Linked DNA regions of Homo sapiens: all the other regions are reported to be linked to region 1. The links are microRNA targets in miRTarBase. Many come from high-throughput screens and were not tested one by one. Region 1 holds a microRNA gene; each other region holds the end of a gene's coding sequence. Distances are from middle to middle.
Evidence for each region. The annotated mature microRNA hsa-miR-4742-3p reads UCUGUAUUCUCCUUUGCCUGCAG and lies in region 1 at 1,497-1,519, opposite strand. An mRNA with a match to its seed (bases 2 to 7 or 8) in the 3' UTR can be bound and repressed. Matches are read on the target gene's strand: a 7mer-m8 pairs with bases 2 to 8, a 7mer-A1 pairs with bases 2 to 7 and ends in A, and an 8mer does both.

Region 1 (4,000 bases):
GGTAGACTGCTTGAGCTCAGGAATTCAAGACCAGCCTGGGTAACGCGGTGAAACCCCATCTCTACAAAAATTTGTTGGGGCTACTTGAGGGGCTGAGGAGGGAAGGACTGCTTGAGCCCAGGAGGTGGAGGTTGCATCAAGATCGTGCCATTGCACTCAAAAAAAGAAAAGAAAAGAAAAGAAAAGAAAAGGAATAGATGAATTTATATGCTTGATGTTAAAATCTAAATCTCTAAATGTCTCTCTTTGTCCCAATCCTTAAATATGCCTTATTCTTAAAGGTAAACCTCATGTGCACTTTATGATCCTCTTATCTACCAAGATCAGTTTTTTGTCAAGATAGGGATAGTAAACATCTTATACAATAAATGGAACATAACATAATCTAATTCCTTGGTCTATCTTATAAAACCAGATTCAGTATATATTTTTTTACTTTTTGTAGAGACAGTGTCTAGCCATGTTGCCCAGGTTGGTCTGGAACTCGTGGCCTCAAGCAGTACTCCCATCTAGGCCTCCCAGAGTGTTGAGATTACAGGTGTAAGCCATCATGCCCGGCCAAAAAAAGTGACTTAAATAATTTGCTTTTATAGTACCTAGAAATGTACAGTGGGTATTGAAGAAAAATGTGTTGAATAAAAACTTGCAATAATTTGCCACTAGTTAAGTTCCTATCGCCTTAAAAAGTACACTAATTTTTATTACTGCCTCACTTATTTGTGCTTGCATCTTCTAAACAATTCACACTTTAGAGTGACTTTAGGCATATTCCTGTCTGGAATACTGACACTTTTAGATTAGAGAACAAGTTTATTCAAAAGGGTAGTAGTAGGAAGAATAATTTCAGCTTTCCTAAAATCTTAAGAATTATCAAACTCAATTATAACTCTGGTGACCGCTGAAGAAATACTGAAGAACTAACTATAGTCAAATCTGTCCAAGTTCAGGTAGAGCATCATAATTAACCTTGATTTTTCAGATACTACCAACCCTTAAAAACCATCAGTCCCATGAAAATACAAGTCAACATATGAAAGTATAATAATTTAACTAAATCTTGATTAGACACATGCACCAAACACACTGCTACGTGGTCAGAATAAGCACTGCTAATCCGTGACAATACATGACAATATGGAGGGCTTAGGTCATTACAGAAAAGGAGAAAGTAATACATGACAGCATGTGACAATTTGTGATAATACAGGGGCTTAGGTCATTACAGAGAGAAATTAACCGTGTATTGGATAAATGAAAGAATTTTAACTTACTACCCTGAATTTTCTTGGAGACATGACTGCCTTCATAAATTGAGATTTACAGACTTTAATATCAACATATGTAAACTGATAAGGACACAATTTACCTTCACTGCCACTAGCGATGAAGTCTTCATTATGGCCTCCAAAACATGAATGAATTGTATAAAACCCTTGTGTAACACCTTGATACTTTCTTACTAAAACTCTGTCTTGCAAGTCCCATAAATGAACTCCCTGCAGGCAAAGGAGAATACAGATATTTAATCTGCCTCAACTCAAACAAATTTTAAAAAGTATCTGTAAATATCCCTTTGCCTGATGAAATATCTTCATTTTCTATTATGCAAAATACCAACATTCTGACAAATTTATGGTTGATTATACACATTTAAGGATCAATCACATGCAATCAAATTTAAGGGTAAGTAGAAAATTTTGTTAATATAAATACACTGAAAATAACAGTTAAAATAAAACTTGTACTAAGCCAAATTTTTCAGAAAATTATACTAATAAACATACCTGAGTTGCTACATTTAACAAAGCTAATCGGCCATTTTTTGAAATAGTAAAAGACATAATAGGATGATCTTCTTGTACTCTGGAACCAGAAAATAATTTGTCAAAAACAACATATTAACAGTCAAGACATTCAAATTATCAATACATAAGATGTGCTAGCTTAAGTATGACAATTTTGCCTGCAATCACTATTACATACTATACTTCAATTGAGAAGAATCTGAGTTACTGATTACTAAGTACCATGTGACCTTCAATCCAAATTACCACGCAAACCAAAACGAAAAACATAAAAACTGTGAAAAGGCAAGTTCCACTACACATTTGAATATAAATCAGGTAATTGTTGTTTAATGGAAACAAAAAATAGTTACATGTTCCTATCTGTAAGGTCCTCGAAGTTATAGCCCCGAATTCGCTGGTGTGTATCTGATGCCAGAACAGTCTTTCCATCACTCAAGCACCAAAGGCATTGCACTCTTACCCCTTCCCAGGAGTCAAGGAGATTACCATCTAAGTCCTGAGTAAGAAAAAACTACTATTAACTTCATTACTCAACAGCACTCAGAAAGCAAATAAAGAACCAAAAGACTCCCTTCACAATATCTTTTAGTAACAGGTTTTTTTTTTTTCCTGAGACTGATCTCAACCTAATTGTTCTAGAAGTGTTTTTAACCATGAAAATTTGAATATAGTTCAAATTTCATTACAACCATACTTAAGGGAAAGCAGAGAGACACTTTGTAGCTCTATCTTCCCTTCAATAACTCACCATGCATAAATAACACAAAGAAAGAAACAGTCCCTAAGTTCCAAGTAAGGTCTTACTTTTATTCAAAAACAATTTAAACGTTCCTTTAAAATTCACTATACTGGAATTTGTCCTAATATTTAGGAGTTGTGAAATGGAAAAAGATTCTAAAACATTTTACAGCTTCATACAGACTGGAGGAATCTGTTAATGACATTTTTCAAAAATTTACCAAATTTGTAATGTGCTCTACAGATCAAAGCTCTTATAGTCATTATCTCATTGAATATCCAAAGTTCTGAGAGGAACAACCCTTCCCATTTTATAAGTTAGATAATCCTGTATCTTGATGGCTTAACACAGTATAGGACAGCAAACTCAGCAGAAACATACATGATCATCTTGCACGCAGGGAATTAAGAACAATTCATAACCATATTGAGATAATATAACACCAAAATCCATGTGTTCCAAACGAGCTTAATAAAAGAAACTGATAACCTGTTTTAGCTAAATTAAATGATTTATTATCTTGTTTTAGTTTAAAAAATTGATCTGGGGTCGGGTGTGGTAGCTCATGCCTATAATCCCAGCACGTTGGGAGGCCAAGGCGGGAGGATCATTTGAGCCCAGAAGTTTGAAGCTGCAGTGAGCCATGATCACACCAATGTACTCTAGCATGGGTGGCAGAGAGCAAGACCCTGTCTCTTAAAAAACAACAAAAAAAATGTGGACGTGCATACTGGGACCATGTGAGTCTGTAATATGAGACACAGAATCTAGACTACACTGCAAGTAACAGAGAAAGTTTTATGGCAAGGTAAACAATGATTTATGATATAAATGATACTTATGATATAAAGTTTACCTTGCCATAAAACTTATTTTTATCATTCCAACAATTCAAAATAATTAGGGCAGCTACTTATTAGAAGCTGACACAAAGATTGAAAAGTACTCTGGTAGCACCTGTCACCACTTTTATTATTCAAATATTAAAGGGAGTCTACTCATAAAATTCAGTGTTTTTTTTTTTTGGTTACAAAAATCTCAAAAGAAATTTAAAAAATCTTTTCAATTCTTATAAATTAGAAACTTGCTCATAAAAACAAAAATGTTTAGCAAAACACATTTTTTTGTTCTACTAAATCCAAAGTCTATACTTTGTACAAACATTTGAAATGTTTAAAAGAAAGGAAAAAAATGACCCAGAAAATTCTATTGGACAGCGCTTGTCTACGACGACAGCAAAGTAGGTGTTCATAGAGTATATTTTGTTTTATTTATGTATTTTTTTGAGACAGAGTTTCACTCTTGTTGCCCAGGCTGGAGTGCAATGGCGCGATCTTGGCCCACTGCAATCTCCGCCTCCTGAGTTCAAGCAATTCTCCTGCCTCAGCCTCCCGAGTAGCTGGGATTACAGGCACCCACCACCATGCCCAGCTAATTTTTGTATTTTTAGTAG
Region 2 (4,557 bases), not on the chromosome of region 1:
TTCCAAGCATTCAGATAAAGGATAGCTGAAAGATAGTTCAATTTAAAAAAATTAAGTTACCAGTTTAGATAAAGCCTCTAAATATAGAACCTCTATGTCCTATAAGATGAAAGGAACTTTTTGTTTTCATCTTTTTCCTCATTGTTTTGCTATTTTTCCTGTTGATATTTTTCTTGTTTTGGTATATTTTTTCTTTTCATTTTTATAAATGAATTCTTAGAGTGTCAGATTCTTCTCATGTGGTATTTAAGGAAAACTAAAGGGCAATGTTACTGTATACATTTGTATAGTCTTTAATGGTTAAAAAACATTTTAACACTAAGCATTATTATCTCATTTGATCCTCACAGTCTACAAGATAAGCAAGACAAAAAATTGTGTTCATGTTACATGTTCAAAAACTGAGGGTTAGAAAGTTGGAAAGGCCTACGTAAGGTCCTACCTATAACAAAGGCTGGAACTGGGACTAGCCATCTGATTCCTTTTCCAATTACCACTAGACAACAACATTTTTTGATGTTCTTCTCTGGTACCCATCCTATCTTTCCATAATGTTATGATCCTTTTGATCACAGAGTGAGAACTTCCCCACTGAAGAAGGAGAAAAGGAGGAGGACACAGAAGCACAAGGTGCTACTGCACACAGTCCACTCTCTGCCCAACTCTCTGACCCTGATGACTTCACAGGCCTCGAGACATCCAGCCTCCTACAGCATGGAGACACTGTCCTTCATATCAGTGAGGAAAATGGCATGGAGAACCCGCTACTATCTAGTCAGTTCACCTTTACTCCCACTGAGCTGGGGAAAACGGATGCAGTATTAGATGAGTCTCATGTTTAATTCTGTATCTTGTAAGCTCTGCAGGTATAGAGAAGACATGAAAGTGATCTCTCTACTACAAGTTCAATACTTTTGCTTGAAAAAGATTAATTACAAAATAGCACTTTACTTCTAATGGGTGGCACAAATCTGAATAGGTTTTGCTGCCAATACACATGATGTTTCATAAACATCTTAAAAGTCAATGGCTAAAAGGATTTAGTTGTGTGAAAATCACAAAACCAGGGAGGAATAAGGGGAAAGAGCCATTTCACTGCACATTGTTTATGATTCAAGAAGCCTTCAGCAGTTAAAAATATATACTATTCATTGCTGCTTTCATAGAAATATTAACAAATGATATGATCTAAAAATAGAATGCAATTTTTTGAGATTACTCACATTATACATCTCATGCAAATATTTATTTTTATAGTTTAAAAAATATCAATTCAGGTTGGCTATACAAGTAGCAATTTACATAAAAAAATAATTAATAGGAAAAATATTACTTTGGGGAGACTAAATAACAAGCCTGCAGCCATTTTTGTTTTGAGTAACAATACAGCCATTTAGAAGAAGAAAAAAATACTATATAGAGAGCTGTGGACTTTTAGATATTTATTTTTCAACTATCATTTTCATTGCATGTTGTAAATCAAAATGCAGATGGCATAAGATCATCCCATTTCATAATCTATCACATTAGAATATTACAGAATATTCTAGAAATCATCAGAAATAATTCTGAATTAAGAACCTAAACAGCCTATACAATTATAAAAACTAAATGTATATATAATCACTTAAAAGAGATGGTATTCCTATTCCTAGCCCTGACTACATCAATACCAAGATTAGAAGCTATTGGAAAATGTGATTAGTAATACTTTTCCTTATAGTATCCTGTGCCTGCCCTGGAGGGCATATTTTCAGATATTAAGGTTAGTGTTGTTAGAATCGGTTTAATAAAATAACATTTTCCTAATAGAAACAATATTCTTATGATACTTGGAACATCTAAGTTTATAAGGAAAAATGTATAAAGTAAGCAATTTCTTCATAGACACCTCCAGTTTATATATTTTGCAAATAGGCCTTTAACTTGAAGTTCAATTACTTCAAGAAAAGTGTAACACTTAGAAGGCTTGTGAGGCCAACACCTAGTGTGTTACTGATCCTATGGTAGGGCTGTGCATCACGTGGTTCACAATTGAATTTCAAAATTTTAACAGTTTACATTAGAAAACTGTTACCTAACAACCAAGCATATACAAACTCATATACATACTTAAATTGGTACGGTGGTGTATGTGTGCGTGCGTGTGTGTGTGTATGTGTTGTAGTCCTCAAGATGAAGTTAAATATAGACTTTAATTACCCTGCAATGAATTTAAAACACATTCTGTATGCTTAAACTTTGAGTGCGTTGGCTGTGAAATGTATACATATATAAAGAGGATACCTACTAAACCCACCTTAATCATAAAGGAAAATTATTTTTTGTTAGAATTGCTTATTAAATAGGCATACTTTATACTGTGGTTTATAATTTCAAATATAACTTGGGGTTATGGTCCTATTCACTAAGAGAATGAAAGATATCCATGAGTTAAAAGAACAAAACTAAAAATTTCAGATCTAACAATTGAAAGAAAATTGAGGCAGTAAATGACCTCTTTTACTCTTTTATGTTTTACAATATTATCATGTTATTTACAGTTAATGCTGAAATAATTCTCAAGTGCAGGAATATAAATGTTAAGTGGTTTTATGATTCCAAGCTGATATATTTCACCTGTTAAAAATTATGCTGCTAAATTAGCATTAGAGGCCTTATGTTTGGTAATTACAAGTGTCTGGGCTATTGGCGCGTCTCTATATATGTGTGTGCTTTGTTCCAGTTTCTTCAAATTATCTATGTATAATTGTATGAAATATTTAAATAGCAAAGAAGTCAAAGAAGATTGTTAAATATTCAACAAGAATCATAAATACCTTTATATGTATTTTAAAAGTATTGGGCTGTTCTGAACATGATTATGCTGGTCTGTCTGTCTTTTAGCCTGACTCCTTCACTCTTGTGTGTGAAGTCTATTAGCAACTTTCAATAAGCTAAGCAATGTTGTAACTTGCAAAAAAGCCTCCACTCTGAGAAACAGGGCCTTATAGAGTAGGAATGTTTTCATACTGGGACTACTGAAATTTTGCAGATGTGTGCATCTGTTCCATTTAAGGTGCCCTTAAATGTGTTGAATGTAATGTGTTGAATGTTTATGTGTAATGGCTAAAGTATCTATATGTATGTGCATAAAACTGTCACAAGATGTATTCTCAGGAATACTGTTACCTGGAGTTTGAAAGGAATAACTATTAAAAAAAAAAGTTGGGGAAGATTAGAAAAAAGCTCAAGATAAATGTTCAAAATATTATTAAGTACATGACTAAAAGCTAATTACTACATATGATAAATGCAGTGTTGGTAATAGTAGATCATTTCTTAAGCCATGATACTTAATGATATTTATCTTATTCAGAGGAAAAACAAAAAAGGTACCCACTTCCCATGTAGAAAAAATTAGACTCAGCAAAGAGGTTGCTTCTTCTGAAATTAGCTTTTGAGAGACCTTGGAATAAACCATGTGTTATCCATGATAGTATGACTCAGATCCAATTAAAACAGTTTAAATTCTGGATATAGGATCTCCTATAGCAAAACATTTTACTTTCATTTTTCAGTATTTGCTGCTTTCTAGAATTCTATTAGATAAGCTATGTCATTTTTCTGAAAAAGAAACTGAGTTATTGAGTGTATTAAGACAAGGCACTGAGAACTACAGTGTCAAAATCAAAGGGCATAAATGGGCATGGCAGTGCTGGTGGAAAAATCTGTGGTACTGGTGATCTGGTTAGGGCCTGTTGCACAGGCTGGGAGTAACTGGTTTGCTGTTTCAAGCCTCCAAGAGTACCTTAAACAAGGTGATAGCTCCTCTCTTCTTTAGCATTATATTCCTTTAGTCAACAAAGAACTTTCTCCACTCTGCTGCCCAGCTCTGAGAGTATCTGAGATGAGAATAGGATGTGTGTGGAGGGGCTTTTAGGGAAGAAAGGGTCATAAATGAATAGAAGTACAGTCTGAAACATGAATTAAATATCCTTCCTCAAGTTATAAAGGATACTTTAATAGAACACAGTCTCCAGAATTCGCTGCTATCACACCAAGTCATGCTGTTGCCCTGTGACCTCACACTTCCCATTCCATGGCCTTGTCTTGGCAGGGAGTAAAAAATCCCACTTCTTTTTACTTTAGTGGGTCTCAACTGCAGCATTTCAGAAACAAATTTTGATTTGACACTCAGGAGAATAAAAACAAGTTGAGGGCAGAATGTATTTGGAAAAGCTTAAGACAAATTTACTGATATTATTTTATGATCATTTAGGATTACAGATCAATTTACCTCCATAAATCTTTGAATTGTCACTGTGACCACAGGATGAAAATCCTTTATTAGCCATTTTATAGGTTAAAACAAAAAATTGACTACACAGCCGACTTCCCTCAGATAACTATGAAGTCTATTATGAGTACTGAATGACCAAAGAACATGGAAAAAATGCATATGAATAAATACTGAAATGTTTATGAAAGATATTTATGAAAGATATTAAGACTTCTGTGTTTAGGTATGCACATATGATAAAATAAATCTAAAAACATTAAAGATGCCTAAGTTTC
Region 3 (4,557 bases), 78 Mb from region 1:
TAAATCACTTCCCCTTGATGGGAATTTGACTCAAATGCAGAAAACCTTGAAGAGACAGTCGGAGAGGGCGGACCTGAGGAGTTTCAGAAGGGAAACTTTTCCCTCTCCTAGGAAGTTGCCACGATTAAGTAGAGAGGGGGTTAAGTAGGGATGAGGTAATACTGGAACATAAATAGGAGAAGGGATCAAGGATTGAGGGCCATAGTAGTCCTGCATCTCTACTTGGATCAGATCTCTAACTATGTATGAGGTCTGATTGGGGGGAAGATGCACTGAACCCAAAATGAACTGTTTTCCCTCTTGTCCTCACAGCTCACCATCATATTTAAGAACATGCAGGAATGCATTGATCAGAAGGTGTATCAGGCTGAGGTGGATAATCTTCCTGTAGCCTTTGAAGATGGTTCTATCAATGGAGGTGACCGACCTGGGGGATCCAGTTTGTCGATTCAAACTGCTAACCCTGGGAACCATGTGGAGATCCAAGCTGCCTACATTGGCACAACTATAATCATTCGGCAGACAGCTGGGCAGCTCTCCTTCTCCATCAAGGTAGCAGAGGATGTGGCCATGGCCTTCTCAGCTGAACAGGACCTGCAGCTCTGTGTTGGGGGGTGCCCTCCAAGTCAGCGACTCTCTCGATCAGAGCGCAATCGTCGGGGAGCTATAACCATTGATACTGCCAGACGGCTGTGCAAGGAAGGGCTTCCAGTGGAAGATGCTTACTTCCATTCCTGTGTCTTTGATGTTTTAATTTCTGGTGATCCCAACTTTACCGTGGCAGCTCAGGCAGCACTGGAGGATGCCCGAGCCTTCCTGCCAGACTTAGAGAAGCTGCATCTCTTCCCCTCAGATGCTGGGGTTCCTCTTTCCTCAGCAACCCTCTTAGCTCCACTCCTTTCTGGGCTCTTTGTTCTGTGGCTTTGCATTCAGTAAGGGGACCATCAGTCCCATTACTAGTTTGGAAATGATTTGGAGATACAGATTGGCATAGAAGAATGTAAAGAATCATTAAAGGAAGCAGGGCCTAGGAGACACGTGAAACAATGACATTATCCAGAGTCAGATGAGGCTGCAGTCCAGGGTTGAAATTATCACAGAATAAGGATTCTGGGCAAGGTTACTGCATTCCGGATCTCTGTGGGGCTCTTCACCAATTTTTCCAGCCTCATTTATAGTAAACAAATTGTTCTAATCCATTTACTGCAGATTTCACCCTTATAAGTTTAGAGGTCATGAAGGTTTTAATGATCAGTAAAGATTTAAGGGTTGAGATTTTTAAGAGGCAAGAGCTGAAAGCAGAAGACATGATCATTAGCCATAAGAAACTCAAAGGAGGAAGACATAATTAGGGAAAGAAGTCTATTTGATGAATATGTGTGTGTAAGGTATGTTCTGCTTTCTTGATTCAAAAATGAAGCAGGCATTGTCTAGCTCTTAGGTGAAGGGAGTCTCTGCTTTTGAAGAATGGCACAGGTAGGACAGAAGTATCATCCCTACCCCCTAACTAATCTGTTATTAAAGCTACAAATTCTTCACACCATCCTCTGTTGCCTATGTTGAATCTCTTTACAGATGCTTGAAATGGAGTAAATGCAATGTGTTCACTCCACTGAAAGAGGGCTCGGAAGTATCAGATACTGTTGCTATCTCAGGGAGTTTACAGGCTATTGGAGAGACAAAACCAATTCACATGAAAGAGTGATGAGTGTGTAATTATTCACTAAATCCTACAGTATGGTACATTCAGATGGGAAGATGGTAGATTTGAACTAAAGTAATAAGAATAATAAAAGGTAACAGAGAAGATGGGATTTGAAGTGAGCTTTGAAGACTGGGTAAGATTCAAATTGTTAACGATCTTCCAGGCAATGAAAACCATCTGGAGTTATGCATGGATTCATGATTCAGCAAGGAAATGAGCAAAACTCAAATGCAGTAGACAAGGAGTAATGGGACAGAAGGTTAGATGGGCAGAGGCCAGATTATGAAGCACCTTAAAAAGGGGGTAAGGGGTTTAAATTTGATTAATATCTAACACTTATTGAAGCTTAAAATCTGCCAGGCAATGTTTTAAACACTTTTAAAACATTGACTTAATTCTCATAGCTCTCTAAGGAAGGTGGTATTCTTATCTCTATTTTTATATAAGGAAACTTGCCTCCAGTCACACAGCTAACAAATTATGGAACTTGCCTCCAGTCACACAGTTAACAAATGGCAGAGCCAGAAACTGAACCTATGCCGTTTGGATCCCGAAACTTAATTTTTAATCACTATACTATATTGTCAAGGAAGCAGAGAGCCATTAAAGATTCTGGTTGTGGAGCTGGTAAAGATTCTAAAAGGGGAGTTGTGGTGGTCAATGTCACCACAAAAGCTACTCTGAGGCTGGGCGCGGTGGCTGACACCTGTAATCCAGCACTTTGGTAGGCCAATGTGGGTGGATCACTTGAGGCCAGGAGTTCGAGACCAGCCTGGGCAACATGGTAAAACCCCATCTCTACTAAAAATACAAGAAATTTGCCAGGCATGATAGTCCATGCCTGTAATCCTGTAATCCAAGCTACTCAGGAGGCAGAGGCATGAGAATCGAGAATTGCTTGAACCCGGGCCAGGAGGCAGAGGTTGCAGTGAGCTGAGACCACGCCACTGCACTCCAGCCTGGGCAACAGAGTGAGACTATCAAACAAAAAACAACTACTCTCTTCTCATATTCTCATATAAAGCCAAAAAGAGAGAGTTGGAAAAGGAGGGAAAGCCCAAAGTTGAAGGAATCTAGTTTGTAGAAGAAAGACTGAGAAGAAATGCTGTTCTAGATGAGGGTGCTCTAAAGTAACAATGCTGCTCTGAACAAAATTATGAAGGAGGTAACTTTTACATTTAATATCTTCCCTGTTTCTGGTCTCATCCTCCCCTCTCAGGTACTCCATAACCGAGGACCTGTCCTCCCTGCCCTAATCAAGTACTCACCATTATCTTCCACCTCTCCTCTCAGTCCCTGACACCCGACAATACTCCCCTGAACAAATATTACAGTAGGGCCCTTTGTATCTACTAATTCTGCATCCACAGATTCAACCAACCACGCACTGAAAATATTTGGGAAGTAGCCGAGCGCAGTGGCTCACACCTGTAATCCCAGCACTTTGGGAGGCTGAGGCGGGTGGATCACAAGGTCAGGAGTTTGAGACCAGCCTGACCAACATGGTGAAACCCCATCTCTACTAAAAATACAAAAAATTAGCCAGGTGTGCTGGTGGGAGCCTGTAGTCCCAGCTATTCGGGAAGCTGAGGCAGGAGAATGGCGTGAACCCCGGAGGCGGAGCTTGCCGTGAGCGGAGATCGCGCCACTGCACTCCAGCCTGGGCGACAGAGCGAGACTCCGTCTCAAAAAAAAAAAAAAAAAAAAGTAAATAAGGCTAGCTCTAAGCCCGCGCGAAGGAAGAGTATTACATGACAGGTGTCATCAAAGAATTTCACTTACCACTTGGCTGTGAAATTCTTTTTTTTTTTTTTTTTTTTTTGAGACGGAGTCTCGCTCTGTCGCCCAGGCTGGAGTGCAGTGGCGCAATCTCGCAATCTCGGCTCACTGCAAGCTCCGCCTCCCGGGTTCAGGCCATTCTCCTGCCTGAGCGTCCCGAGTAGCTGGGACTACAGGCGCCCGCCACCACGCCCAGCTAATTTTTTTGTATTTTTAGTAGAGACGGGGTTTCACCGTGTTGGCCAGGATGGTCTCGATCTCCTGACCTCGTGATTCGCCCGCCTCGGCCTCCCAAAGTGCTGGGATTACAGGCGTGCGCCACCGCGCCCAGCCGAAATTCTTCTCAATTCACTTGAAATTCCCACACCTGAGGGATAAAGTTACTCTTTTAAGAGAACCAATACAAAGAGTATTTCTTCAAAAGGATGTTTTGAGTTAAAATACCTATATTTTCTGTGAAGTGAAGAGACAGCCCTGGATATGTCTCTTCCCCCAATTTTTTTTTCTTCATTACAACACATTATTTTCTCCATTAGCTAAAGGTTACTTTGGAAAGCATAGAGACAGTGCTTTGAGGGAATGGCAGAATGGCTGTGGTCCTTAAAAGAGGTGGAGAGGAGGGAATAGAGGATAAAGAATTGCAGGAGAAATTTGAAATGGCAGACCAGATACGTCTCGAACTCCTGGCCTCAAGTGATCTGCTCGCCTCAGCCTCCCAAAATGCTGGGATTATAGGCATGAGCCACCATGCCCAGCCCAACTAGCCCTATTATTAATGGAGCATTTTTAAATAGGTAGCTCAAAATAAGCATATGAAAAGATGCTCAACATCATTAGTCACTGGGGAAATACAAATCAAATGAAAACAACAATGAAAAAATACTACATACCCACTAGAATGGTTAAAATGGAAAAGACTGTTAAATAAAATACAAAATGTTAGGAAAATGTGGAGCTTTCATGTGCTGTTGGTGGGAATGTAAAATGGTACAACTACTTTGTAAAACAGTTTGGCAGTTCGTTAAAAGGTAAGTGTACACTTACCATACAAACCAGACATTCCAAACTTAGGT
Region 4 (4,557 bases), not on the chromosome of region 1:
CATGTTAAAAAAGCGACCTCTGGGTTGGGAGCTACTGGTGACCTCAGTGAAAGCAGTTTCTAGAGTGGTAGAAGTAGACTCCAGATTAAAGAGGTTGAGGAATGAATGAAAGATGAGGAAGTAGGTAACAAAAGTCATCTAGCCTTTCAAGACCTGTGACAAAGGAGATAGGGTGGTACTAGAAAAGGGGGCAGGTTTTATCAAGGATAGACTGGATAAAGAAAATGTGGTACGTATACACCATGGAATACTCTGCAGCCATAAAATGGAAAGAGATCATGTACTTTGCAGGGACATGGATGGAGCTGGAAGCCATTATCCTCAGTAAACTAATGCAGGAACAGAAAACCAAACACCACATGTTCTCACTTATAAGTGGGAGCTGAACAATGAGAACACATGGACACATGGTGGGGAACAACACACACTGGGGCCTGTTGTGGGGACAGTAGAGGTAGGGAGAACATCAGGAAGAATAGCTAATGGATGCTGGGCTTAATACCTAGGTGATGGGTTGATCTGTGCAGCAAACCACCATGGCACACATTTACCTATGTAACAAACCTGCACATCCTGCACATACACCCTGGAACTTAAAAGTGGAAGAAAAAAAAAACACACAAGAGAAATGGAAGGAATTTAATAAAATTTGCCACACTACTCTCAAGATTGTAATGATATATATGCCCAACAGTGAATTTTGACAGTACCTTCACCTCATATATAATAAACATTTCAAATCTTTGTTCTCTGAAGAGGTTAAAAATGTATCTTTCTCTTGAATTAATTTCATTCTGTTATCAAATTTTTTTTGTTACATATGTTTATCAACCATTTTAATTTCTTTTATGAGTTTCCTTTTCAGGTTATTTTCTTTCTCTTCCTTTATTTTAATAAACAGTTATATTGTCTATTTTTAAAAAGGGAGGCAGGCTTAAAGGAAATGTGATTTTTAAAAAAGACATAATCCAGTAGAGAGAAATAAATTGAAGCTATTAGACCAGAAGAGGGGTGGGGTTTGGGGGCGGTGACAGTTGCAAGGTGCTGGAGTCCATAAAAACTTGAGTTTCAAATATTGGAAGAGGGTCTCTCTTTCTGATTTAAAAAGAAAACAAAATTCTTCCTAAAATCTGTTTAGGTCTAGCCTCTTCTCCAAGATAACACGGTTGCTTTCACCAAGAGTTCCCGTTGTTTTCACTTAACAATCCACTTTCCCTTATTAGTCAGAATTAGATTCAGGTAAAGAAAAGGATCACATTGCAAGAAACATAGTTCCCAAGGATTATAACAACATGTCTATTCTTTCATTTCAAGGACTGGCTTTGACATCAAAGAAGTGAAATAATAGTCTCTCTCAAAAATGTTGTTTTTATTTAGCTAAAAATAGGACGAATGCCATCTATATGGATAGATATGAAAGTGCAGTTATTTTCAAATTGCTAAATAAATGTTTCCCCCTCAAATCTGAGCCTAGATGACCATTTTGGAACTCTGCAAGGAACATAAACATGGAACATTCCAATTTCTCTATTTCCTAGAATACAAAATTATTTGGTGATGGCTTTTTTTCCTACACTTGATTTCTGGGTTATTTTCTAAGGTTTAGTCCTGCCAGCCTTTCTAAAATATTTGTTTTCTGAATGCTTAAATTCAATCCCAGCTGAAAGACCCTGACAGAAATCCCTCATTGTAGTAAAGGGTTGGTGGTGGAAACTAAAAGTGTAGAGACGCTGGGTGCAGTGGCTCACACCTGTAATCTTAGCACTTTGGGAGGCCATGGCGGGTGGACCACTTGAGGCCAGGAGTTTGAGACCAGCCTGAGCAACATGGTGAAACCCTGTCTCTACTAAAAATACAAAAATTAGCTGGGTGTGGTGGTGCATGCCTGTAATCCCAGCTGCTTGGGAGGCTGAGGCACGAAAATTGCTTGAACCCGGGAGGCAGAGGTTGCAGTAAGCCAAGATCATGCCACTGCACTTCAGCCTGGGCGACCGAGCAAGACTGTCATAATAATAATAATAATAATAATAATAATAATAATAATAATAATAATGTAGTGACACGTTACCTTTATTAATTTTCTTATCTGTAGGCCATAAATTGTATCCTGATAGATAATCTGAGCCTGGGAAAAAGCACTCAGAAATGCAATGGAAGAGTTATCACTATGGGGACTGGCTCAGCCATGACACATTTGTAAAAAAGGAAGAACTTCTAACCTCAGTAATGTTTTAGCGCAGGAAGCCTTCTTGCCAGATCTCATTTTCATCAGTTGGAAATATGCTCGATGATATGAATTTTGGTTGAGCAATTTGTATTTATGGATTGAGCACCTCTTTAGCCACAGTGGAAAACTGGAAAACAATTATTAGTATTTTTTGTGTTCTTTCTACAGAAATGTTGGCACAGAAGCCAGAAGTTACGCAGTCCATAGGAAATGTTGTTACAAAGACATCCTGAATGTCGCTTCTGATACAGTCATCCACGGTGCTATGTCATCATTCTGCCCTGAGCCACTGTGACTCATTCTTTGCCTTCATGCTCACACTGAATTCACATAAATTCAAGACAAAATCCCTCCATATCACCTTAGGAAAATGGAATCATTTATTTTTTGCTGTGTTAATATTCCCTTATTATTCAACTTTCCTAATGCACACAATGTTCATTTTAAATGGTAGTAGATTTATTTACAGCAGAAACAGAGAGAGGTGATTTGACCTAGTGATTAAGAGCACACACTCAAGAGGCCACGCTGCCTAAACCTGAATCTTTGGCACTTACTACTAGTTCAATAAGCTTTTTACTATGCCTCAGTATTCTCATAAGTAAAATGGAATAACAGCCTGCATAGGACTACGGTGAGAATGAAATGAATTCATTCCCATAAAGAGCTCAGAACAGTGGGCATATTTAACATCCTCAGTAAATGTTCAGCCATTCTTATTAGCTCTTATTTTAAATTAAGAAAATGATTCACATTATACCATTTGAATCTAAATATTGACTACGATATTAGGAAATGTGATAGTACCTGAGGAAATTCTCAAGGGCTAAATAAACACTAACACATCACAGAGAACCAAGAAAGGTTCAAGTCTAAGGTGCAGGAACAAGACCTTGGGCTGCAGCTATGGATGTGACGCGGGGCCTTGCTTTCTTGTCTGTAGTGAATGCTAGCCTTGAGCAAGCTATCATTCCTTGAATTCAATTTTTTTGTTCTCTCAGCTGAGTATACAATTTATACAAATCTGAAAAGAATAGAAGTATCTATCAAATAGTTTTCATGAAGTTAAAAAAATGAAAAATAACATGGAGGTCCCAAAGTCCAAAGTATGAGTTTGAGTGGTCCTGTCCCATTAACACATTTCCTTGTGTGAACACTTTAATAAGAGTTCCACTAAATAAGGCAGAGAAAAGTTCAAGAGCCTTTCTAAGGCTGCTATGCCATGCATGGTACTGGAATATTGCTGACTTCCGTGCTGTGGCTGACCAGAAGTGGGACTCCTGGCCTGTGACTCTATTTCTAATCTGAATATTCTTATTATTAATAATGTGACATCCCATAAATCACTTTTTAGGAAAAAACAGAATTGGTGGTATATCATTTGAAATAAAATTAAAATAATGATGATTTCTAAGATTACTGGACTTCTGTAAAACCTGTTTCACCTGAGATGACTAAAATAAAAACTCATTAAAAAATAATGAAATGATGGTGTTTTACACAATGATTTATTTTAAAGCTTAATAGGAAATCACAAAGTATTTAATAAAAAATAGTTTTAAATACATTTTTAAAGTCTTAAGGAAAGTCTCTATTTATAATCCTCCCACCTCCACCTCCCAAGTAGCTGGGACTATAGGCACATGCTACCACACCTGGCTTAAAGGTGCAGTTTTAATGGCAGATTTCAGACTCCTTAAGCTACATGATGGCTAAGAGTCAGCTTAAGGACTTAAAAAATGTACATTTATAAAACATTGAGGAAATTCACCAAAATGTTTTGTAAACATTATAAACAAACATCTACTATATAATGTGAGAGACAGTTTCAGGATCTATTTAGAAAGGTTTAAATCCTGTATTTTATAATATTATTTTATAAAGTTACTATTACTATGAAATTTGCATTACACATTCTGTGTCACCCTTATGTGTCACCTTAACTAATATCAAGGACAGGTTTGTTAAAATATACGTATTACACTATATACATACATACACAGACATAGTGCTTTTTTCCCCTTGCATAATGCTGCTTCATAAGAACATATGTGGTCTAAGGAACAATCAGAGCATAGCAAAATGCTGCCTTAATTGTTTAATTAAATGTTGTGTGTCCACATGGTCTGGAAATGCTGCTTCAGACTTCTGCGCAGCAACATAGCTTCTCTGCAGATCTCCAATCTGCAAAAAATACAAGAATAAGACCATGGAATGAGATCAGAAAAAAATGAGTAAGGAAGTAAAAAAGAAAATAAGACATAGTATCTGCATGCTGTAGAAATTCAAAGGGTTCTTTTCTTTTTTTTTTAACAAACCCACAACTAACA
Region 5 (4,557 bases), not on the chromosome of region 1:
TACAGATCTTTCAAAACTTAAGAGCTTTTACAGAACTTAGTAGAAAAAGAAATGAACAAAAGCATGTCGTGAGTGGTGACAACAGGATTTATTTAAACCTGTATTTATTTATTTATTTATTTGTTGTTTTGTTGTTGAAACATTAACATTCTTTAACTTAGAAAGCCATGTTTCCATTGAGGCTAGAGTGTGTATTCCAGAAAAATGCCACACTATATGTTGTGGAAGGAAAATCCACATCCTTTTATTGAGTTTGACGTTGTCTTTATTATTTTATGTCCTAATTGAGGGTGTGGCAGTTGTATTTAGTTAGGTGAAGAATTTCCTGTAGAAACTCAGCCTCTGCATGTCCATGCAGACTATTTGCTTGGTGAGGTTTGTGGAGCTCTGTCTCCAGCGATCCCAAAGTGTCATTCTCTGGAGGAGATGTGTTTATAAAGGGGAAGAAGGGAAAATGTTTAATTTGGGTAAAGGGGTAGCGGTTTAGAGGGGAAGACCTTGTTATAACTAGGAAACGGTATTTAATTGTAAACAGCAGGATTCTTAAGTTTCAGCTAATATTGAAAATAAAAATAAAAGCTTTGTTATAAAATTGTTTTTGGTTAATGTTTGACACATCTTTCTTTCTTAGCTTTCAAAACAATTACAAGAGAAAGGATGGAAAGTGGGAGACCTCCTGCAGGCTGTGCTTCAATACTATGAAGTGATGGAAAAAGCTTCCAGTGAGGAGAGATGCAAGTCGCTGTTTGATTGGCTCTTGGAAAATGCATAGAGCAAACCCCAAACCAGTATATTTTAGTATTTGTTTGGGGAGGGGAACAAGCCAATAAAGATGTTTAGGATAAAATTTGAATAGTGAATATTAACATCGTAAGTCAGTTGGGAGGCAAGTAAATATAGCTTTCTGAGCGCTTTGTGTTATCACTCGGTGTATATAGTTCATACTTTTGTAATCTGTCAAAATACTACCTTCATTTATTCTTCTATACACATGTGTAGTGTGTCAAGACCCTAAGAACATGTATTTGAAGGAAGGTCTAACCAGGGGGTTTTCAGGGGCATTGTCTGACCACATTCTTTTTGTATCCAAATAGTGCTGCTAGAAACTGCACTGAAGTGGCTGAGGATAGGTTCCAGTGATAGAGTTATAATTTTGCTCCTTTGCAAACAAATGGTATCTAATTAATAACTAGTCTGACATCAGAAAATAAAATTGAGGCTGATTTTTAAAAATTTCTAGTAGATTTTTGGCCTTTCCTGTTTTTAAAAATCAGTTTCATTTTCATATTTCATAGATCAGCTATTGGTAGCTTTTTGATTTCCCCAAACTATTTAATTTCTTAGCAGAAACATTAGTATTTTAGGTTTCTATAAACACTATAAGTGATAGTTTCCCCCATCCTTTCATTGACATTATTTGCCAATGCTGCCAGTCATTCTGGCATGAAAGGTGTGTGTGTGTGTGTGTGTGTGTGTGTGTGTGTGTGTGTGTGTAAGGGAGTACTTTAACCTTGCCAGTTTGTTCCCTCTTTTATTTTACTGTTTTCTTTTTAGAAACCCACTGTTAAAATTTAAAAAGGTGCTTTAAAATAAAACGCCTATAAAGATTGTGCAGTAAGAATTTTTATTGACAATAATTAAAATTTTTTTTGACAATTTTGGGTTCCCAACTTATCTTACAAGTGAAAACTTAAATTGTAAAACATGTTGAAATTTTAAAAATTAATGTTAATATGGAAATGCATTTAGAGAAGCCCAGTAGTTTTTATTGTTGGATTTTTGAAAAAACCTCTACCAAGAATGTGGTGTTTTTTTTGTTTGTTTGTTTGTTTGTTTTAGAAAAATTGGGATTTCCCCCCACCCCGCCCCACCCAGATAAACTATATCTACACTGTCTCGTCAAGTTCTCTGACACGATCTTTCTGGGCTCTACATTTCCTACTAGTTTGTGTCCAGAAACTGCAAGTTGACATGAATAGAGGACAAAGGTTGTGTCTTGCTTTTGTCTCTCTCTTCCCTCCCTGCAACTCTCTCTCCCCTCCTCCCACTCTCTTCCCCCTCCCCCCTCCTCCCACTGTCTCTCACCTCCCCCACCCCCCACTCTCTCTCATCTCTCGCTGTGTCCTGTGTATGTGTGGGTGTGTGTGTATTTGGGTGTGTAAATGTTGGTTCTTCCACTACTGGATTTTGTAATCTAGGATAAATCACTTTTTTTGGGGACTTTGATTTTGCTCCATTACGTTTTCATTTTTTCTGAGCACTGACTGTTCTGAAAGCTGCACAAAACGTAGAAAGAAGACATAGCGCCTGCCAGGGAATAGGAAATGAGGGCACTTACACATTAATGTGAATTAGTAATTGTGGTATAGAAATGTTTTATAGTGAAAGATTCAAATTTGCTTTTCAAGAAAAATGCCAAAAGCTATTTAAATAATTCGAGGTTACATCGTAGGTTTTGATTTTTCTCAATTTAAGATACAGAAATACAGCAAGCCTTAATATAAAGTTTCCTAAAGTTTCTTCAAGTATTTTTTAAGGTGGAGAAATGCAGGAATTGTATAACCAGAATTGTTCCTGCCTTTAGCTTTTCAGAACTTGAGATGTGGCAGCACTGGACTGGGTTTTTTTAAATGTTAGGACTAGGAATGTTTGCTCTTGTTAATTATGAATTAATTGATTATTAAGTTTAGAATGCATTTTTACAAGTATCTAACTATCAAATTGTGTTTAGTAACTTGAGTGTATGCACAAGTTTGATCAACAGCAAAATAGAGTTCTGAATTTCTTTTAAAGTGATGATATATTATTTTGTGAAACTTTGTGTTTGAAAATGTTTATTTCTGTTTATGGTGTAATCATTCTGAGGTGAGGCTTTTCTTATTTCCTTTGCATTTTGCTAGAGCTGTGCTGAGTTCAGCATTTGCTTATTTAACCACTACATAATGACAGACCAGTTATTAGGTATTAGCATGTGTGGTAATAATAATAGTGGAACTTCACACTTACATCAATTCAGTGCAGGGGCATAGAATAAAATATTAAATATTGGCAGATGTATGAAAAGAAGTGTGAGTTAAAAATATTGAATATTGGCAGGTGTGAAAACAAGTGTCAAAATTCCTCATATAGAGAAAATAATTTTGAGTTTAGAGTATTATCTTTTAATTAAGTGTAGTCTAAACTTAACTTTCTGTAAAGGCACTTTGTGGTTTTTCCAAAGATGTTCTAGATCTATTTGGTTGCTCTATAGTCAAACAGCTCTTTTGAAGACAACTGTCTTATTTTATTACAAATTGGCTTGACATATTTATACTGTAACATTGTAATATTGCTGTGCTGTACATTTTGGCCCTTACGAAATACGTCTTTTTCAGAACTGTTAAAGTTTTGATGTACATCGAGCTGAATTCTGTTTTTACCAGTTTCAAAACCTTCAAGTGATATGTGGAAAAAAGTGAATGAGACCTCTGATAGGGGGTTTTCAGAACCTTGTTCACACCAAAATGTGACAGTTCTTTCATGTTTTCCTAAACCAAGTTAAAATTACATGTATATTTTGGTGTTAAGGTTGATTTTTAAGATACTTCTGATTTGTACAAAAGGAATGTTTCCTTTATAAATCACAGAAGAAAATGACAATATCTGTTGGATATTTGATATAATTTAATGGTGTTATAAAACCTTTAAGAGGATTCATGGTGAATATATGTGATAACATCTTTATACTTTGAAAAATGTTCCACTTACCCTTCAGATATTTGTTGTAAGTTAATTCAATTCTTAATACTTTAATTTTGCTCCAACAAGGGCTTTATGTTGCTGGTAAGAGAATTTATTTACTAAATGCACTATGTATAAAGTGAAAGATAGTTTACTTATCTGACTTTGATATTAGATGGCTGACATTAGTGCACATAATGCAGAGTTTAACCTTGATTCTTCAACAGAGTCCAGATTTAAATGTCTACTTAGTTAATTAGTTAGCTGATATTCTTCCACAATTAATATATTCAATTTCCCATCAGTATATCACTTTAAATTTTATGTTTTTCTAAGGAAACTTTCCACAGAATTTTAAACAACTGATGCATCCATACTCAGGGTGTAGGGAGAATACTTTGCATTTAAAAACCCTGTCCACCTGTCACCAGCACAAGAGAATTAGAGCTTCAGTGAGAATTTAGAAAAATTATACTAAAGTGAGATGCATTTTTTCTCATTTTCAGCAAGACTCCTCTAAGCATTTACTCATTTACTGTATTCCTGCTCTGAAGATGTGGATACAGAATTAGTCACTCTTGTCACTTTATTTATTTATTGGTTTTTTTTTAACCATCTGTGTACATTCCTTTCATAGGGTAGAGTTCTAGTTCTAGAAGTTCTTATTTTGTTTTTGTTGTAATGTTTGAATACTATTTAATATCCGGTTTTAATATTGCTGGATTTGCTACCTTTGGTTACTTGTGCAGTGTTAAAAGTAATCCACTTTCTTGTTTAATATACCAGATACATAGCAAAAGCAGCTTGGAATAATTATAGCTGTTTATTTGGCTGTGC
Region 6 (4,557 bases), not on the chromosome of region 1:
CCTGATTTCCATGGCCAGCATGTAGATCCTGTGGGGTGGGGATAGTGGCTCTGACACAGACAATTCGCTATCACATAGCTACAGACATGGCGTTTCAAGGGCCTTTTCTTCCTTGATATTCATCTCTTCTCTTTAGAGAGTGCCCACATAGTATAAAAGAGAGGTGATAAAATGTGGCCTAGATTGAGGAGAAATTATTAAGACTTATTTTTCTGTAAGACCTCAAAAGATTCTCTATGATTATTATCTCCACAGGGAAACAAATGTTGGACAAAATACAACCAGATTCACATAGCTTATCCTATGGAACTTTGCCTGATGGAAGTGACTCAACAAAGAGCCAAAGTGGAGAGAAGAAAGAGGTCTAAATGCTGAGAAGGATGGCTGTTGGCCTGTTATTCGATACCACCTTTTTAAAAAATTGCACATGTTCAATTTGTGTCAGCAGCTCTTTTATAAGCTAACATGTGCTAGCATTCATTTCAGTCCTTTCCCCCACCTCAGCGTCTATGGACAATCGGGGACTTCCTAAGCTCTGACAGTCTAATATTTCCATGGAATGTGATTTGGAGTGTTCCCCACACCCTGGACCTCTCCCTAGTGATTATCTAGCCAGCTACACCTTACTCAGAGCCCGGCTGCTCTAGCAGGAATGTTGCACAGAAACATACATTTGCGGTTTGGCCACAGGTCGCATAGGTGGCTTCTCCCACGGGTAGTGTCAGTTGCTTCACTTTAAAAAGTCACTTCAGCCCCACAACCTCACTCCCAAAAGAAAGGTTTGAGAGCGCTCATTTTTTTTCTAAGACACCTTTTATAAGCCTCCCTATAAAAATCTCACCTTTCAAGTACTAAGTTAGAATTGCAAGTCATCTTTTCTGAAAACTAATGCTATCAAAGTCCTCCTTTGAAAATTAAGGGTCTCTTTAAAATTAGAATTTATAAATGGCATTCAGTGATAGTGTACACCAAAATTAAAAGACCTTGACTGGTGGGCTTTTTACGTGTAAGGAAGAGGAAGTTTAAGAAGTAGGACTCTGCTTGTTTCAGTAGCCCATGTACTAAAATAGGAACAATGCAGAGATTAGCACAGCCCCTGCACAAGGCTGACACATAAATTCATGAAGCGTTAGAGACAAAAAGTAGGACTAATGTTTGTTTATTTTTTAATAAAAATCTAGAATGGTGATGTTTTCTTCAGCTGTATGATTCTATCATACTTGAAACTGAAGAAAAATTTAATATCCTATGTCTTTTTTATAGATCTTATAATTTATCAAGTGGATTTATATGTCTTATTCTCCATATAAGTCTAAAAAATCACATTTAAATTCTTAGTGATAGTTTCACTACACATCATTTCTTCCCAAAGTCATTACCTCAAGCTTTGTAAATTCTTCTAGATAAAAGGAGAGTTGTGATTAGAGAACTGAATTTCAGCCATTTAAACCTGTAGACATAGAAAACAACCCAGTGGTCAAACCTGAGCTTCAAGAGGAAGCCCAAGTCCTCCTGTTTCCTGAATGGCTTTTCCACTCCAATTCATCACATATCTGCTAAGACACATTTGCAGGTAGAATCCATAATAATATCTGTTATTTATGATCTACCTAATATTTAAAGGAGAAGAAAAGAAGTAGCCTTCGTTGCAGCCAACATCCAACAATAAGTCCCACCCTTAATGACATTTCAAAGCCTTCAGATCACTTCTGACATGTCTGTCCAATATCATTCCAATCAATAGTCTTGCATTTAAATAGGTTGTTTAACTCGGTGGTATTGAGACTGTAACCTTAATGGCTCAGGTCTTTTAGCTTTGTTCTTTGTCATAATCTGCACTCCTGGCCAGACTGACCAAACCTGGCTGCAAAGGAAAGAGATTTGAATTGATCACCAATGTATGAAAAATACAGAACCCATGTCTGGCTCCTAAACTCCTGGTAATAATTCCCGCCATCGTAGCAAGTGTCCCATGCATTCAGATAAAGCAGTCATAATTTATGGTGTATTTTACCGAATTGGTCCAGCATATTGGTCCTACAAGGCTCAGCCAAGAAATGTATCTGGTGCCTTAAACTACAGATTTCTGGTGACTCTTAAAACTGGTTTACAAAGATTGAGAAAACAATTAGATTGAAGAGTTTTGCTTCAAGTAGACCTGCATTCATAGCTAGAGTGCATGAGATTTTCAGCACTGTAGAATTTCACACAGGCACAAGCATAACACCAGTACTTTAGCAGCCGCCAACAGTTGCATCTATTAAACGTTTTGAGAAATGACATTGACTTATGCACATTTAAGCAATCAACAATGTTTTAGAAGTCCAGGTAACATATAAAATATATTCAGACCTAGTTTTACTTTCCATATTGTTGCTCCAAAGTAAGGTAAATAGGAGTTTTAGTTGTACTGGCCTGTAAGATTTTTTAAATTACACAGTGCATGACAACAACTAAAGCCAACTCAGTCCTTCTCTTGGCATTGTGAGTTGAGGACCTTTAGCCAACTGTTAGCTCATCTGACTATCTGTCTAGACCAAGGGTCGGCAAAGTTTTCAGTAAAGACCCACAGAGTACATATTTTGGAGTTTGTGTTGTCTGTACCAACAGACAGACATGGTGTCTGTCCCAACTACCCAACTCTGCCATTGTAGCACTAAAGCAGCCATAGACAAGATGTAAACAGAAGAGCATGGCTGTGTTCCAGTAAAACTTTATTTACAGGCCAGGCATGGTGGCTCATGCCTGTAATCCCAGCACTCTGGGAGGCTGAGGCTGACAGATCATCTGAGGTTAGGAGTTTGGGACCAGCCTGGTCAACATAGTGAAACCCCATCTCTACTAAAAGTACAAAAATTAGCCAGGCATGACGGTGGGTGCCTGGAGTCCCAGCTACCTGGGAGGCTGAGGCAGGAGAATCACTTGAACCCGGGAGGTGGAGGTTGCAGTGAGCCGAGATCATGCCATTGCACTCCAGCCTGGGCGACAGAGTAAGACTGTCTCAAAAACAAACAAACAAACAAACAAACAAAAACAAGTGGCCAGTCTGTGAGCTATAGTTCCCAACACCTGGTCTAGACTCTTCTGCCCTTGCTCTGCAGCTTCTTTCCTGTTGATTGGGCATTCAGGGAAGGAGTTTAAAAAGTGACACTCATGGCTCATGACAAATGAGATACTTTGGGAGTGTGGAAACATGGCTTGATATTTGCCTTCAGATATTTTTGCTTATATAAGTTCTAAATGGAAGTGATAAGTTCATTCTTAGGGTCCAAGTTGAAAGGCAGTGGTTCTTTTGTGAACACCACTAACTACATTCGAAAAGCCTCTCCAATTCCACATTCCAAGTCTATAACAGCTTTGGAAATGAGTAACAATGACCTCTCATGTAGTAGATTAAAGCAGAGGCCTTTGCCATATGATTGTTTTTTGGCTTAAATGTTTGCTTGCCCTGTAACTGTAATACTTTGGTTACCAGAATCACTTGAAAACAAATACAATAAAAAAATTTCTCAAGCAGTGACCCAGAATGTATTCTTCCCCCTCTTCAATACCCCACACACTCCTAGAGATTCTGTTCTGTGGCAATGTAAGAAAGAGAAAGGCAGATTTCATAGATGAGTACAATTTCAGTGCTATGAAAGAGTAATGGTGGTAATGTGTAAGTTTGGCTCCAAAGGACGCAGGTGTAATGGTGGACATAACTCAAAGAGATAGAAATGTCGAGCCAAGTTCCCTAAGCCAAGCACCCTCTTTGTGCTCCTGTTTCCAAGCACGCAACTCATCCAGGAATGGTGAGTGTACACACTCAGCCATGCTGAAGGCTGCCTCAGTGCTTGCCAATTTAACAGTGATATGGTGGACATAAATATAGCAGTTACTGACATGAACCTTCCCAACACTCTTCCAGACTGCTTTACTTAAACTCTGTGGCTGGTTATAGAGGCAGTCTTTGCACTGGGCGGCTGCAAGGCTAATGCACATGTTTGGCACCAGTGAATGTGAGTCCTTTAGTGAGGTTGCTAGATAAACACCACACATTTTGAACTATTAGAATAAAATCTCAAAATTGAACCCAACGTGATTGTATGGGGAATTTAGAGGCTGCTTCTAATCGTTAGACTCATCAACAGTCTGGCTCTTATTATGACCATCTTGAAGTAAAACAATAAAATAAAATTCCACACATACACAGTTTCCATGCAAATATAGACCAGCCTTGAGCTATTAAACCTAGCATTTTAGCAATTGTGGTAAATGCAGGGAAGAGCCTTTCCACCCAGGAATTTTTGAGTCTGTTCCCTTTCTCACCAGCCTCAGGGTACCACACAACATGATGTCCTGTGCCAGAAGAGCAAATCAGTTACAGGAGCTGTGGCCCATCCAAGGAAGCTTTTTTTTTTTTTTCCTGAGAGGGAGGAAACTCCTCCTTTAATGTTGGTCCTTATTGAGAGTTAATGAGTCCCAACCACAATGTAAAAGAGAAATATCAATCCCAATATCAAATAAATGTGGTGTTTTGGGGTGCACCCTGCTGGGCCAGGTGCTGCCAAGAGTTTC
Region 7 (4,557 bases), not on the chromosome of region 1:
TAACCACTGAGGATCCCCAGTGCCCCCAGCCCTTGGAGGGGGCCTGGCCGGTGACTCTGGGAGATGCTCAGGCCCTGAAGCCCCTCAAGTTCTCCAGCAACCAGCCCCCTGCAGCCGGAAGTTCAAGGCAAGATGCCAAGGATCCCACGTCCTTGCTGGGCGTCCTCCAGGCCGAGGCCGACAGCACAAGTGAGGGGCTGGAGGACGCTGTCCACAGCCGTGGTGCCAGACCCCCTGCAGCAGGCCCAGGTGGGGATGAGGACGAGGACGAGGAGGACACGGCCCCAGAGTCCGCACTGGACACATCCCTGGACAAGTCCTTCTCCGAGGATGCGGTGACCGACTCCTCGGGGTCGGGCACACTCCCCAGGGCCCGGGGCCGGGCCTCAAAGGGGACCGGGAAGCGAAGGAAGAAGCGTCCCTCCAGGAGCCAGGAAGGTAACTCAGGGAGGGGCCCCGGGCACCGTCCCACGCCAGGGCGCTGGCACCCAGCCGGTCCCTCCCCTTCCCCATTGGGCACTGCAAGTTCCAGCGGCACCCAGGAGAGGTGACTTGGGTGCGGCACGGGAGAGGAGGCGGCAGTGCGTCCACCGCAGGGCGGCTATGTGGGCTGCCGCGGCCCGTGCAACTATTCCTCCAACCTACTAATTCCGACCTTCACGCCACCTCCGTTAGGGAGTAGGGGGCGGACACCGGGCACCAGGTCCCAGGCAAGTGGCTGCCATGTGGCTTAGTGGCCAGAGAACCGGGCAGCCCTCAGAGGGTGTTGGCATGGCTGTCCCGGGCCCCCCAGCCCCACCCACTCCGAGTCAGGGTTGCTTCTGTGTGATAAGCCGTTGAGTGCGTTTCTTTTATTTGGAAGCAGAGGTTCCCCCTGATTCTGATGATAATAAAACAAAGAAACTGTGTGTGATCCAGTAAGGTATGTACGCAGCCGGCGCTCCGTGGGGGCTAACAGCAGCTGCAGGGCAGTGGGGCTGGAGCTTGCTGCCCACACCCCTCCGGGACACTAACCTGGCTTCTCTCCAGCCCGCGTGGTGCGTCAGTGTGGCCTTGCCGCTCCCGCAGCCCTGGTGGTGGGCTTCCCGCCCCATCCCCTCCCTCTCCGCAGGTTACCTGCTCAACTGGTGCCTCCTGCAGGCAGGACGCAACCTCAGTGCTGGCCCCGGGCATGCGGGCCTCGAGAGGGCAGGTGGCAGGGCCAGCCGGACTCCCTTAGCAAGCAGGATCCGGGCCCTGGGGCGTGGGCGGGACCTCCTGGCTGGCAGGACAGGCTGAGGTTGCTCCTGTCTGGTGTCCTGGCGCTAACTGCAGTTCCAGTAACCCTGTGGCTTTCCTGCTCTGTCTGTTGGTGGAGGGCTATCTTCACTCTAAGTGTGTCAATGGCGTGGGGCCTTCTGGGGCATGTCCCCAGGAAGTCTGTGAGGAGACCGGGACAGTCGCAAGGGCAGATGCTGCCAGGGACAAGTACACTGCAACCCCCCTCCTGTTGGACAGTGTCCTCCCACCCCGAGGCCATGGGTGGGTCTATGGAGAAGCAGATTACCCCCCGCACACCGAGTCTTCTGGGGGGCGACCAGCCAAAGGTCAATCAGCCAGGTCCGTCCACAGGGCTGGAGAGGCCAATGCATCCAGCTAGACAGGACCAGCCTGCACTGGGTGGAGGAGGGGCTAGAGCAGAGAACCAGAAGGTCCAGCCCGGCCGATCATGAGCTCTGTGAGCCCAGGTCGTGGCGTCTTCCAGCACCTCCAGCCTTGCTCAGAGCCAGCCCGGTGTCGGTGCATCACAAATATGCTGACCGCTGGGCCTGGGGCTTAGGCTCAAGGTGCACACCTGAGGTCTGCTGGTGCCCATCAGAGGCAAGAGCAGTCGTGACCCCGGAGAAGCTTCTCCGGACAGCTTGTCCTCGCTGTTGGGGCACGGCCTTCACCCTGGGTTCCAGCTTTTGCTTCCAGGGTCATCTTCCGAGTGTGGCTCTCTGGTGTGAAGCACCCACGTGTACTTTTTAGAAAGGTGCTGGCATCTCCCTTAGAGGCTGGAACTTGGACTTGCTGGCCCTGAGTGTGAGGAACAGTGGAGCATGCAGGTCTGGGGCGGGCGGCCACATCTGACAATGGTCCAGTGAAAGATGGACGTGTCCAGTGCCAGCTCCACGCTCCACCTGGTTCCCTCCTGAACCTGCTACACGTGCTTAGCCTCCACCCGCCCCAGCTCCTGCCACGCACGTGGCTGAGGGCAAGAGGAAGAAGTCCTCTTCTCTCCCCAACTTTTTATTTTTTATTTTTTTTCAAGACGGAGTCTCACTCTGTTGCCCAGGCTGGAGTGCAGTGGTGCGATCTGAGCTCACAGCAACCTCCACCTTCCAGGTTCAAGTGATTCTCCTGCCTCAGCCTCCCGAGTAGCTGGGACCACAGGCACACGCCACCACGCGCGGCTAATTTTTTGTATTTTTAGCAGAGACAGGGTTTCACCATGTTGGTCAGGCTGGTCTCGAACTCCTGACCTCAGGTGATCCACCCGCCTCGGCCTCCCAAAGTGCTGGGATTACAGGCGTGAGCCACCGTGCCCAGCCCCCACCTTTTTATTTAGAAAATCTTCAACACCACAGGAAACTGCATAGATCAGAATGAACAACACCTTCTCCCCGAAATTACAACCATTTGCCAAAAATACCAAAATTGTGACCATTTTGCTACATTGCCCCCCTCCAACTGAGGCATCTGAGAGTTTCTTATAAACATCATGGCACTGGAGCCCTAAACTCGCCCACAGACACCTGAGAGCACAGCCGTCTTCCTCAGTCCCCCCCGGGCAGGGTGCGCTGCCGTCCTCCCAGTCCGCCCCCACCGGGCAGGGTGCGCTGCCGTCCTCCCAGTCCCCCCCCCGGGCAGGGCGCGCTGCCGTCCTCCTAGTCCGCCCCCCCGGGCAGGGTGCGCTGCCGTCCTCCCAGTCCCCCCCGGGCAGGGTCCGCTGTGGGGCGCTTCACGTCCACATGCTTCTAATACTCGGTCCCAGTGCAGATGTGCCACTTGCCCCAATAATTCCTTCTCTAGTTGTTGCTTTGTTGTTTTTGCAAACAAGATTGTATCCAGAGTCACATGCTGTGTTTGGTTATCATATCACTTCAGTCTCTTTTGTTCTAGAACATTCCTGCCCCTTTTTGTCTTGTATGACATTGACGTTCTGGAAGATAACTTCACTTTGGGTTTGCCTGATTGCGCCCCCAAGTAGGTCCAGGTTGAGTTTTGGGGCAGGAGTTCTACCCCAAGGGATGCCATGTCCTCCCCAGCTGGGTGGGGACGTTTGTGGCAGCAGCGCTGACCACGGCTGCGGGGGTGGTTTCTGAACCTCCACTGCACGAACACCACGCTGTCTGGTTAATAAGCACCGGTGGTGACCTGTGGAACCAACCGCTGCAGCGCGGTTCTGTGTTCGCCGCCCCTCGTCCGAGCGTTCCCCCCTCCCCTCCCTTTTTCCATCACGTGAGTTTTGAACGTGCAGTAATCCTTCACTGCCACTGCCGTGCATTTGATGGGGACCAGCGGGGGCCCTGAGCGCTTCCCATCTTTGGCACAAGCCCCTGTTCCTAGCTCACCCCAGACTTGCTGATCCCCCCATCCCTGCACGGGCCTTGGTCTTGGCCATTTCTCCAGGTTCCCTGAGTGGGGAATGGTGCTGAGACCCTCCTTTGAGTGATTGTTTTGGATAGTTTTTGTTTTCTTGCTGTCTGTTTAGAGTAGTGGTTCTCAAACCCTGCTTGGGCCATCCCACTGGGGAGCTGGGACACCACCTGGCACTGTGGTGGCAGTGGGGGTGACACTCAGACAAGGGCCATCGAGGGCCCCTGGACCAGAAAGCGAAGAGGGCGTTGGGGGCAGGAGGCCTGTGGGGCCATGTGTGGGGGCCGTCTGGGTGGCGGGAGCTGTTGGGGCAGGGCTGAGCGCCCTCAGCAGCCCACTGGAGAAAGCGCTGCTGGGGTCCTCGTGTGGGGCCCAGGGCCCGACGTGGAAGCAATGGAGGGCTGCAGGGGGTGGCAGTGGGGATGAATGAGTAAGGACAGAGTGCAGCCTGGGTCTCAGACAGGGGGTGGGGGACAGGCCACAGAGATTCCCTATCTCAGCAGAGAGGAGACAGGCTCAGGCTGCCACGCCTTGCCAAAACCCAGCCTGGCCAGGCCAGCCCGGCACCTTCCACCTAGATAAGTTGTGCTGCTCCAGAGAAAGAGCCTGGGGTCAGAGTGGACCTGCGATGCATGGCACAACCTGCTGGACAGTGGCGATGAGGGGTTCAGGGACCTGGGCACCCAGAAGCGGGCACCTGATATTGTACCCAGCAAAACTGCTCCTAATAATGTCATTTTTTCTCTCTCTTACAGGCCTCAGGCCCAGGCCCAAGGCCAAGTGAGAGAGCCCAGGCCACAGGACATGCTGCCATTCTGCCAAGAGAGGCTCTTCTGGGGGCCAGGCTGGGACTGGGCCCCGGAAACCAAAACTCCGTGCCTTACCCAGCCGGGGCCCTCCTGGAGCCTTCTTGGGGTGTTGTGGCTGGGAACCCGA

Region 2: miRTarBase lists UNC80 as a target of hsa-miR-4742-3p. Seed matches in the 3' UTR shown: 7mer-m8 at 1,383-1,389.
Region 3: miRTarBase lists HJV as a target of hsa-miR-4742-3p. Seed matches in the 3' UTR shown: 7mer-A1 at 979-985.
Region 4: miRTarBase lists TTC8 as a target of hsa-miR-4742-3p. Seed matches in the 3' UTR shown: 7mer-m8 at 4,084-4,090.
Region 5: the mRNA of AKAP11 is a reported target of hsa-miR-4742-3p. Seed matches in the 3' UTR shown: 7mer-A1 at 2,476-2,482, 7mer-m8 at 2,483-2,489 and 7mer-A1 at 4,281-4,287.
Region 6: the mRNA of NIPAL2 is a reported target of hsa-miR-4742-3p. Seed matches in the 3' UTR shown: 8mer at 1,907-1,914.
Region 7: the mRNA of INF2 is a reported target of hsa-miR-4742-3p. The part of its 3' UTR that is shown has no 7-base or 8-base seed match.

What each region holds. Positions count from the first base shown.
Region 1 is chr1:224,396,731-224,400,730 of GRCh38, forward strand. It overlaps MIR4742 (microRNA 4742), which reads right to left and starts at 1,581; the gene lies at 1,497-1,581. It overlaps WDR26 (WD repeat domain 26), which reads right to left. Exons shown (of 14, transcript NM_001379403.1): 10 at 2,159-2,304; 11 at 1,785-1,863; 12 at 1,367-1,496.
Region 2 is chr2:209,994,754-209,999,310 of GRCh38, forward strand. UNC80 (unc-80 subunit of NALCN channel complex) reads left to right here. Exons shown (of 65, transcript NM_001371986.1): 65 at 576-4,543. The coding sequence ends at 842. Among named protein-coding and RNA genes, the nearest start is that of RPE, 5.6 kb to the right of the region's middle.
Region 3 is chr1:146,014,456-146,019,012 of GRCh38, reverse strand. HJV (hemojuvelin BMP co-receptor) reads left to right here. Exons shown (of 4, transcript NM_213653.4): 4 at 313-1,543. The coding sequence ends at 936. Among named protein-coding and RNA genes, the nearest start is that of HJV, 5.0 kb to the left of the region's middle.
Region 4 is chr14:88,877,148-88,881,704 of GRCh38, reverse strand. TTC8 (tetratricopeptide repeat domain 8) reads right to left here. Exons shown (of 15, transcript NM_144596.4): 15 at 3,717-4,411. The coding sequence ends at 4,295. Among named protein-coding and RNA genes, the nearest start is that of TTC8, 55 kb to the right of the region's middle.
Region 5 is chr13:42,318,457-42,323,013 of GRCh38, forward strand. It overlaps AKAP11 (A-kinase anchoring protein 11), which reads left to right. Exons shown (of 13, transcript NM_016248.4): 13 at 632-4,557. The coding sequence ends at 772. Among named protein-coding and RNA genes, the nearest start is that of AKAP11, 49 kb to the left of the region's middle.
Region 6 is chr8:98,188,789-98,193,345 of GRCh38, reverse strand. NIPAL2 (NIPA like domain containing 2) reads left to right here. Exons shown (of 11, transcript NM_001321635.2): 11 at 256-3,520. The coding sequence ends at 368. The region is part of intron 2 of NIPAL2-AS1 (NIPAL2 antisense RNA 1); the gene reads right to left. It also overlaps the pseudogene RNU6-914P. Among named protein-coding and RNA genes, the nearest start is that of NIPAL2-AS1, 15 kb to the right of the region's middle.
Region 7 is chr14:104,714,419-104,718,975 of GRCh38, forward strand. INF2 (inverted formin 2) reads left to right here. Exons shown (of 23, transcript NM_022489.4): 21 at 1-438; 22 at 866-922; 23 at 4,377-4,557. The coding sequence ends at 921. Among named protein-coding and RNA genes, the nearest start is that of ADSS1, 7.5 kb to the right of the region's middle. RefSeq lists an enhancer at 258-1,197.